Regions from separate parts of the Homo sapiens genome. Here region 2 is linked to region 1. Evidence: fine-mapped expression QTL. A gene starts in region 1. The other region holds a variant in brackets. All regions are shown on one strand. Distances are from middle to middle.

What was found. PIP is the estimated chance that this variant, and not a neighbour inherited with it, causes the effect. A credible set is the group of variants that fine-mapping cannot tell apart.
Region 2: its variant is the best candidate, but not a certain one, in a credible set for the expression of H2BC21 in whole blood (INTERVAL, PIP 0.77).

What each region holds. Positions count from the first base shown.
Region 1 is chr1:149,884,468-149,889,467 of GRCh38, forward strand. H2BC21 (H2B clustered histone 21) reads right to left here and starts at 2,215. Exons shown (of 1, transcript NM_003528.3): 1 at 1-2,215. The coding sequence starts at 2,173. The coding sequence ends at 1,793. It overlaps H2AC20 (H2A clustered histone 20), which reads left to right and starts at 2,451. Exons shown (of 1, transcript NM_003517.3): 1 at 2,451-2,944. The coding sequence starts at 2,508. The coding sequence ends at 2,897. H2AC21 (H2A clustered histone 21) reads right to left here and starts at 3,498. Exons shown (of 1, transcript NM_175065.3): 1 at 3,002-3,498. The coding sequence starts at 3,449. The coding sequence ends at 3,057. RefSeq lists enhancers at 759-808, 818-1,411, 1,189-1,268, 1,679-1,768, 1,839-2,128 and 6 more.
Region 2 is chr1:149,762,330-149,767,852 of GRCh38, forward strand. All of the region lies in intron 2 of LOC105371406 (a long non-coding RNA gene), which reads left to right. Among named protein-coding and RNA genes, the nearest start is that of FCGR1A, 18 kb to the right of the region's middle. The variant C/G (reference allele first, on the strand shown) is at 3,184.

The DNA.
Region 1 (5,000 bases):
ATTGGTAACTTTATTAATAACAATAGCATCTATACACATTTGAAAACACACATGTAGGAGACAGTTAAGATCTATTCAGTCTGTGATAATGTCTAGAGCTCATTTGGATTCATCAAACCCCTGCCATCAGCTCCAAAAGCCCTTAGCCAAAAACAGCTGAATCACTCATCAAACCATCAGTGTCTTCCTCGGCAGAATCAAGGGTTGGACAGAAAGAGTAAATATTCTGCACCTCCACAAAATAAAACTAAAATGCAATTGTCCTGCATCTGAGAATACAAGGGTGGACAGTATGAGCTGCATGACTGTGAACCAATGAGGCTTCTCTTGGCCTCATTTGTAAAAAGGAGATTAACTCTGTAGTCCCGCCTATATTGCATGGCCTCCAGAAAAGCAAATGAGGTGGTAAGTGTAAATTAAAAGCTCCTCTCCTTTAAGAGGGGAACACCATGAGGGGAGAGTAAGAAAAGGAGAAGGAAAAGGCTCTTTCCAGTGACCAACACGCTGAATTTGATGAAAATCCATAAGAGGTTATGCTAAACTGAGAAGCATAAGGGTGGATCTACCATTGCCACCTCCTCTTTGTAGCAAAAAAAATCTTAACACGGCCCCCTCCCAGCTGTTGCACTGAGGTGACTAAGGATACATTTTGAGGAAGTAGCTCCAAGAACATTTCCATTTTCACTGTGCCTTCACATACATCTAATGGAAATGAACAGCACCCTTCATCCATCCACGGAAGCGATTAAGAAAAGGGTGGGATGGAAAAATTAACCCAACAATATTAGATCAATACGTAGTATTTAAGTGTCCATAATGTGCCAGGCTGAAGATGCACGGGAAAACCACACTAGCCGGTCTGTCAAGGGCTTGAGAATACCATAAACAAGAAAACAGACGAACCAATTTCAGACAGCTGCTAGAAGGAAGATAAAATGAGACAGGCAAGTATGAGAGGCGCGAATTCCTGAGTGGATGACGTAGGTCTCTGAGAGGTGACTTTTGAGCCCGTATCTACATGGTAAGTGCCTCGCAGTGACCTGGGGCCGTAGCGTTACCATTTAAAGCACAGACCATTAAATGCAGAAATTATCAACAAAATGAGAAATAGGAATTTCAAAGTCTCAAAGTGAACGACGGAAACTGAAATCTACAAATTAGAAAAAGGCGCAGAATTTTGAATATTCTTGTCGCCCAATCAGGACAAGGCTGGGACCCGGCTGCGCGGCCTTCGTCCAAAATACACAGAACGGCTGGTATCCACAGGAGGCCCCATCGCACGGCAGAACTGGTGACCGGACACAAAAGCTGCTGCCAAGCGTCAGTCATACAGAGCTGTCACGCAGTGTTTGCGGAACCCGGGCTGAATTGTGTCCTGGAGTTCTCTTAAATGACAGCCGAACTCAGCCACTTCGTTTTAGAATGAAACAGACCCAAGGAGCCACCAGGGCGCGTGTGGGGCGGGAGTGGGGGCGGGTAAAGAGGCGGATTCCCAACAGCCTAATTGAGAACCGACTCCTGGGAAGGCTAAGCAGCACAATGAGTAAAGACACGCTCTAGATTCAAAAGCAAATCCAATGACGCACTGGGGACCTCGAGTTCCAAATAGTTAAAAAGCTACGTATGCCATTTCCCATGACCTTCACACTAAAATAACTTACTTTATGAAAAGAAACTAAGGGAATAAGTGAACAAGCTCTTTTCTAGTGATTAGGTGGGTGGCTCTGAAAAGAGCCTTTGGAGTCAAGCAGCCGGCGACTCGAGCGAGCGAGCGCCAGGTCCCGGCAGGGACTCACTTGGAGCTGGTGTACTTGGTGACCGCCTTGGTGCCCTCGGACACGGCGTGCTTGGCCAGCTCGCCGGGCAGCAGCAGGCGCACGGCCGTCTGGATCTCGCGGGATGTGATGGTGGAGCGCTTGTTGTAGTGCGCCAGGCGGGAAGCCTCTCCCGCGATGCGCTCGAAGATGTCGTTGACGAAGGAGTTCATGATGCCCATGGCCTTGGACGAGATGCCGGTGTCGGGGTGGACCTGCTTCAGCACCTTGTACACGTAGATGGAGTAGCTCTCTTTGCGGCTGCGCTTGCGCTTCTTGCCGTCTTTCTTCTGGGCTTTGGTGACGGCTTTCTTGGAGCCCTTTTTAGGGGCCGGAGCGGATTTTGCCGGTTCAGGCATGGTAAGACACAGTACAAACGCGGCTTAGCCAAGAAAAGAAGTAAGAGAATGGGCGGGCCTGATTCTTTTATAACCACCTTATGCAAATTAGGGCTCCGAAAGTCGTTCATTTCCATTGGTCCGTGTGCGGACCTTGCGTTTTCAGCAATGCGTACGTAACAACACCGACTCTTGACTTGATTGGCCGGTTCTGAAGCCATATTAGGACCAATGAAAAACTCGTTCTTGACCCCACCCCTAGGAAAGCTTATAAAGGCTTTCCTCTTGGTTCTCTTTCAATCTTATTTTGTTGCGAGGTTCTGAGCGTTGTCTGTGTTTAACCTTGATTTCAGTCATGTCTGGTCGTGGCAAACAAGGAGGCAAGGCCCGCGCCAAGGCCAAGTCGCGCTCGTCCCGCGCTGGCCTCCAGTTCCCGGTAGGGCGAGTGCACCGCTTGCTGCGCAAAGGCAACTACGCGGAGCGGGTGGGGGCCGGCGCGCCCGTCTACATGGCGGCGGTCCTCGAGTACCTGACCGCCGAGATCCTGGAGCTGGCGGGCAACGCGGCTCGGGACAACAAGAAGACGCGCATCATCCCTCGTCACCTCCAGCTGGCCATCCGCAACGACGAGGAACTGAACAAGCTGCTGGGCAAAGTCACCATCGCCCAGGGCGGCGTTTTGCCTAACATCCAGGCCGTTCTGTTACCAAAGAAAACCGAAAGCCACAAAGCCAAAAGCAAATAAATGCAGACAAACAAACCAAGACCAAAGGCTCTTTTTAGAGCCACCCAAGTTTTCAAAAAAAGAGCTAATGCGCTATTTCGTGATCAGCCCTTCATTTGACACTTTGGTGGCTCTTAAAAGAGCCTTTGGGGTGAATGAGTATGGTGTCAAGCCTCTTAATTACTTGTTCTTGCCAGGCTTGTGACTCTCCGTTTTCTTGGGCAACAGGACAGCCTGGATATTGGGCAAGACGCCGCCCTGGGCAATGGTGACACCCCCGAGTAACTTGTTGAGCTCTTCGTCATTCCTCACGGCTAGTTGCAGATGGCGAGGGATGATGCGCGTCTTCTTGTTGTCCCGAGCCGCGTTGCCCGCCAGCTCCAGAATTTCCGCGGTCAGGTACTCGAGGACCGCCGCCAGGTACACCGGGGCGCCTGCCCCGACCCGCTCCGCGTAGTTGCCTTTGCGCAGCAAGCGGTGCACTCGCCCCACCGGGAACTGGAGACCAGCGCGGGACGAGCGCGACTTGGCCTTAGCGCGGGCCTTGCCTCCCTGCTTTCCGCGTCCTGACATTACGGCTAAAATTGCAGTTACAGCTTCTTTTACAAGGAGAAGAATGTGGAAAGAATAACCAATTTGATGTAATTTATAAGAGCTACCGGGAGGGGTGAAGGGAAGTCGTTTGATTGGCTAAAAGCGGAGCCGTATCTAACAGCCAATAGAAAAGCAGAAAGCCGCCTCTTGGTTTGCGTCCTGCACTGAAAGGAAATGACGGATTTTGTAAGTATCTACCAATCGCTGAGAGCCACATTAAAGCCCCTTATTTGCATGCCAGGATCTTTAAAGAGAGCAGGCTTTCAAACAAAATACTGGTTTTGTTTTACTGAGAGGCACTGTGGGTTTTTGTTTTGTTTTGCTTTGCTTTGTTTAGTTTACAGCCGGGAAATCCCAATATGGACCCTAAGGAACTGCAGAAGACATCCTTAGACGGAGAGTTACTCTCACGAAAGAGTAGGGGATTCTGAAGCCGATGATCCCCTTGAGCTCTAAACTGCCAAGTCCCGCCCTTTCTGTCTCGTCACAGCCAAATTCCCTTTAAAAATACATGTACTACTAAGGCTGCCTCCTTTCTCGCCCCTAAACTTAAGTCGCCCGCAGCGGCGTGTCTCCGCCCCACCCCCACCCGCCTGCACTCCTCGGAATCCGGTTTGACCGAGGCTAGAATAGATTTGTCATCCTCCTCTTGACCTCCAGGAGGCGGCCTTCAAACTTGCTCCCTTGGCTTTCAAAATGTCGCCCTGTTTTTCTTCTTACCTCGCCGACTTTTCTTATCCTGCTCCCCCATGCCACTGCCCATCTCTAAATCTGCGAGTCCAGCTGGACTGTTTCCCTGTCTCCAATTCTTCACTTATCCCGAAGAGTCTTACCCATTTATATGCTTTCAACTAACGTCCAAATTTGTTTCAGAAGCTCAGACCCTTATGCCTAACTGCTTACAGAATACTTCAACCTACTTATCCCAACGAGCACCTCAAACTCAAACTCTACCTCAGCCTATCCGAACGCGAACTCATACAAACAACCTCCCCTCTTTGCCCTCTTTTCCTGAAATGCACCAGCATACTTACAGATACCTAAGCCGAAATCTACTCTACTCTTCCCTTCGTCTTAGCATATCCAGTCAGTTGCTTCCTTAACATCCCTTCAGACTTTTTCTCCATGCTCCCTTGTCCACCTCATCATCATCCCTTAGATTTCAGCAACAGCCGGGAAAGGGTAATTTTGCCGTCAGGCACTAATCGCTGGCATGACTCCAGCGGTCTTAGAAATCTTTCCTGAAAGCTCTCCTTTTTTTCTTTTATCCCATATAACAGATGAACCTGAAAGCTCTTGTGTTTCTTCCTCCTCAACGTCCCATCTCTGGGAGTTCTACATCTCCTACACCATTCTCACCCTTTCCTTAGTATCCCTTAAGGTCAGGTAGAATGCTAGAGAGAAAAAATAGACTTGTGGGTTTTTTGTTCGTTTTTTGAGGCGGAATTTCCTCTGTCACCCAGGCTGGAGCACTATCTCAGCTCACTGCAACCTCCACCACCGCCTCCTCCACCCCGCCCCCACCCACCC
Region 2 (5,523 bases), 120 kb before region 1:
ACTATTTGAATCAGATGGCATAGCCTAGTTTCCTCTACAACTGACAGCACACTCTTTGGTATTTTGGTATTTTTCAGTGTCCTTGAAATGTTTAACTACCCACTAAAGAACAGGTCACATGGAATTAATAAACAAAGGGCTTCAGTTTCCATCAAGCACCTTCAAGTGACAGGAACAGGGATTTAAATAAAAGGATCTAAGTCAGCACAGGAAAGTGACTATGCTGCCAAAGTGACTCAAACTCAAAAGGACAGGATGAGACTTACTCAGAACTTCGAGGAAGTGTAGAGAAATTATCCACCACTTTTTATCCTAGAGGTGCTTTTGTGGTTGTGACCATACCGTAGAATGATTTGGGGATCCCTTCCAACTGGAAGGACATCTTAGACTGAGGGAACCCAAGAAACCTGATTTCGGTCACCCCTGACCATCATAAATCCCATGCAACAGGTCCATGCATTATCTAATGTTGACTCTGGGAATGGTCATTGTCATTGTTTCCTATTTGAATGGTTGTCACATTTCCTGCTTCAAATGATATCCAGAAATGATGGCTTGGGACCATATTCTCAATTTTTAGGTGGCAAATAGACTCCAGAGACATCACACATAATAAAATACTTGGACTTTGAAAGGAAAGAGTCAAGTCTATGACTTACAAGCTTATAAAGATCCCTCAGATGAGTTATGTACATGGATTGAGAATCAGAAAAGGAAGGATGCTCTCTCAGGAGATAGAAAAACCAGATAAAAGGAACAACTGAAATTATCTGACCCATCCCCTCATCGCCTGTGTAGAAGGGAAATGCTTACTTTATCTAACCAGTGGATAACAGACAGCCTCTTTCATTTTGGAGCTACCAAAAAGAAAAATAAATTGTGGTTTGGTTCAGTTCCCTTTTGACCAGTATGTTCTTGAAATTTCGAAAACATTTTACTCTTTTTCCTTTTAGTGTTTCAGTGTGGATAATTTCATTTGATCTATTTTCAAGTTCATTTTTTAGGCCAAAATTTGTCAAATATTGGCAATTTCATATGATTCAACTTAATATATTAACCTAATGTGCCAAATTCAAATTTGTTTCTATACTACTAAATAATATCCCCCGAAACGCTTTGCCAATTTACTCCTACTGACAGTGTATGAAAATATCCATTTTATTTCATCCTTTACAAGGTGCTATTATCAATAATTTATACTTTTACCAATCTGGGAAGTGAAAAAGACATTTAATTGTCTTGACTTGCATCTCCCTTATTACTGGTTAGTTTAAATTTCTATTCTCCGTTCATTTTTCTGTTTATTTTCTTTTGTAGTACCTACTACTTCTTGATATCTTTATTTAAGCTTTATATATTTACTTTTTACCTGTTAATTGTTGTAATCACCCACTAAAGAGTAAATTCTGGCTGGGCACAGTAGCTTACGCCTATAATCCCAGCACTTTGGAAGGCCCAGGTGAATGGATCACTTGAGGCCAGGAGTTTGAGACCAGCCTGGCCAACATGGTGAAACCCCATCTCTACTACAAATAAAAAAATTAGCTGGGCATGGTGATGCACACCTGTGATCCCAGCTACGCAGGAGACTGAGACACAATAAACGCTTGAACCAGGGAGGCAGAGGTTGCAATAAGCCGAGATCACACCACTGCACTCCAACCTGGGCGAGGAAAAAGAAAAAGAATCAGTTCCATCAGAGCATGGATTAAGTCTCATTCACCACTCTAGTGCCTAGAACATTTTATGTACTCAACATATAATAGTTAAATGAATGAATGAAAGTTAGACTGTAGGGGTGTCCATGAAAGTAGATATTAGCTAAGTTCCCAGAGATTGACTCCTCTTTTCCTGGTTCTCACACTTCAAGCTCTGTTAAGCCTGGAGGAGGGTGTTTTGTCTTTAAAAAGATACAGCTCCAGGTTACCCCTTTGGACCAGTTCCTGTTCTTAGGTATCAGACTTCCTCTATTCATGAATGGTGGATATATATGATTTCCTGTGATGTTTCTTTACATTATGACCATAATGAGCGTTGATTTTTAGTTCCTGATCCCCTCATGTAATGACTGTTCAATTAATGACTTTTTGCCATAATGGCTATTATAAAGCTATGTCACTTTTTGGACAACTCCTTTTTTATTATAATGATTTGTCACCCCAAAATAAATAAACATGCTATAAGAAATTATATTTTGACATCATGGTTTCAAGCAGACACTATGTAGGAGGATGTGTATGAATGAGCATGTAGGGAAGTGGCCAAAGAGGGGCCCACCCTCTGTAATCTGCTTTTTGATGCTAAGGTGAGGACTCTGCAAACCACATCTTTTTTTTGCTTGCTGGCTTTATTAGTTTCTGTCAGTAAGGGGTGTTAAAAAGAGACTGAAAGGCTGGAGGAGGGATATAGGTCTGGCTGCTTCCTATTTTGTTTCTTGTTTCAATTAGCATCATCCCAGCCATAATTTTTTACTCTGAGAGTGGTCATTGTTTCCAGTTTCATTTCTTTTCCTTTCTTACAATCCCGGAGCCAGCCTCATGGCCCCCTCTCAAAGGCATGAGCATCAGCCAGTGGACACCTCTTCTTCAGAGATCTGAGTCCCTGCGACACTAGGTACTTCCTCTGAGTTCCAAGGCCACCAGCAACCTCCTTCTCAGAAGCCATCCTCCCAGTTATGTGTGGCCCTTCATCCAAGTTACCAAGTTCTAACAACCCAACCATTTTACCTTTGTTTCTACAACCCTAGGGTTGATCACTGCTTCGCTTTCTACACTTACTATCTCTGTGTTACATCAGTTCCCCTTTTGCCTTCTTAGACCTCCAATACCTGTATAATTCCTTGTGTTAAATTCCCTCTGGTATACTGTTCATTTTCTATTTTTTTTTTTTTTTTTTTTTTTTGAGACAGGGTCTTGCTCTGTTACCCAGACTCAAGTGCTGTGGTGCAATCATAGCTCACTGAAGCCTTAAACTCCTGGGCTCAAGTGAGTGTGCCACCATGCCCAGCTAATTTTTATTTTTTTTAGACACAGTGTCTCACTCTTTTTCCCAGGCTAATCTTAAACTACTAGATTCAAGTGATCCTCCCATTTTGGCATCTCAAAGTGTTGAGATTACAGGTGTGAGCCACCATGCCCAGCCCATTTTCCTTTTAGACCCTGAATGACACACAGTACTACTCAC[C/G]AATTTACCTGACATGACCATTTGTAGTCAGAGAATATTGTGTGAAACAACTTTGAATTGCATGACTGTATTAGTCTGTTCTCACACTGCTAATAAAGACATACCTGAGACTAGGTAATTTAAAAAGAAAAGAGACTTGATTAACTCACAGTTCAGCATGGCTGGGGAGCCCTCAGGAAACTTACAATCATGACAGAAGGAGATGCAAATACATCCCTCTTCACATGGCAGCAGCAAGGAGAAATGCAGAGCAAAAGCGGGGAAAAGTCCCTTATAAAACCATCAGATCTCGTGAGAACTCACTATCATGAGAACAGCATGGGGGAAACCACCCCCACAATTCAATTACCTCCCACTGGGTCCCTCTCATTATGTGGGGATTATGGGAACTACAATTCAAAATGTGATTTGGGTGGGGACACAGCAAAACCATATCATTCTGCCCTGGCCCCTCCCAAATCTCATGTCCTCACATTTTAAAACACAATCATACCTTCCCAAAAGTCCCCCAAAATTTTAACTCATCCCATAATTAGCTCAAAAGTCCAAGTCCAAAATCTCATCCAAAGGCAAGTCCCTTCTGTCTATGAGCCTGTAAAATCAAAAGCAAGTTAGTTACTTCCTTGATACAATGAGAGTACAGGCATTGGGTAAATACAGCCACTGCAAATGGGAGAGATTGGCCAAAACAAAGGAGCTACAGGCCCCAGGCAAGTCCAAAATTCAATAGGGCAGTAATTAAATCCTTAAGCTCCAAAATAATATCCTTTGACTCCATGTCTCAAATCCAGATCACACTGATGCAAGAGGTGGGCTCCCATGATGTTGGGCAGCTCTGACCCTGTGACTTTGCAGGGTACAGCCCTCTTCCTGGCAGCTTTCACAGCTGGCATTGAGTGTCTGAGTCTTTTCCAGGTGCATGGTGCAAGCTGTCAGTGGTTTTACTATCCTGGGGTCTAGAGGATGGTGGCCCTCTTCTCACAGCTTTACTAGGAAGTGTCCCAGTGGGGACTCTGTGTCGGGGCTCCAACCCCACATATCCCTTCTGCACTGCCCTAGCAGAGGTTCTCCATGAGGGCTCTGCCCTTGCAGCACACCTCTGCCTGGGCATCCAGGCATTTCCACACATCCCCTGAAATCTAGGTTCCCAAACCTCAGATCTTGTCCTCTGCACACCTGCAGGACCAACACCATGTGAAAGCTGCCAAGGCTTGGGGCTCGCACCCGCTGAAGTCATGACTCAAGGTGTACCTTGGCCCCTTGTAGCCATGGTTGGAGTGGCTGGGACACAGTGCACCAAGTTCCTAGGCTGTACACAGCAGGGAGGTCTCTGACATGCCCTGAAGACCTTTTCCCCACTGTCTTGGCGATTAACATTTGGTTCCTCATTACTTATGCAAATTTCTGCAGCCAGCTTGAATTTCTCCCTAGAAAACAGGTTTTTCTTTTCTACCACATAGGCTGCAAATTTTCCAAATTTTTATGCTCTGTCACCTCTTGAACGCTTTGCTGCTTAGAAATTTCGTCTACCAGACACTCTAAATCATCTCTCTCAAGTTCAGAATTCCACAGATCTCTAGAGCAGGGGGTAAAATGCTGCCAGTCTCTTTGCTAAAGCATAACAAGAGACCTTTCCTCTAGTTCCCAACTAGTTACCATTTCCATCTGAGACCACCTCAGCCTGGACTTTATTGTCCATATCACTATCAGCATTTTGGTCAAAGCCATTCAACAAGTCTCTAGGAAGTTCCAAACGTTCCCACATCTTCCTGTCTTCTTCTGAGCCCTCCAAACTGTTTCAACCTCTGCCTGTTACCCAGTTCCAAAGTTGCTTCTACATTTTCAAGTATCTTTACAGCAGTGCCCCACTACCCAGTACCAATTTACTGTATTAGTCCATTCTCACACTGCTAATAAAGACATACCTGAGACTGGGTAATTTATAAAGGAAAGAGGTTTAATTGACTCACAGTTCTGCATGGCCAGGGATACCCCAGGAAACTTACAATCGCGGTGGAATGGGAAGCAAACGTGTCCTTCTTCACATGGCAGCAGCAAGAAGTACAGAGCGAAGTGGGGGAAAAACCCCTTATAAAACCATCAGATCTCGTGAGAATCATTCACTATCATGAGAACAGCATGAAGGTAACTGGCCCCATGATTCACCTACCTCCCACTGGGTCCCTCCCATGACATGTGGGGATTATGGGAGCTACAGTTGAAGATGAGATTTGGGTGAGGACACAGCCAAACCAAATCAATGACATATTTAGATGAACCCAAAATACTGTTTTTCATACACATGCCAAGCAAAGTGAATGAGAGGGTTGCATCTTCTAT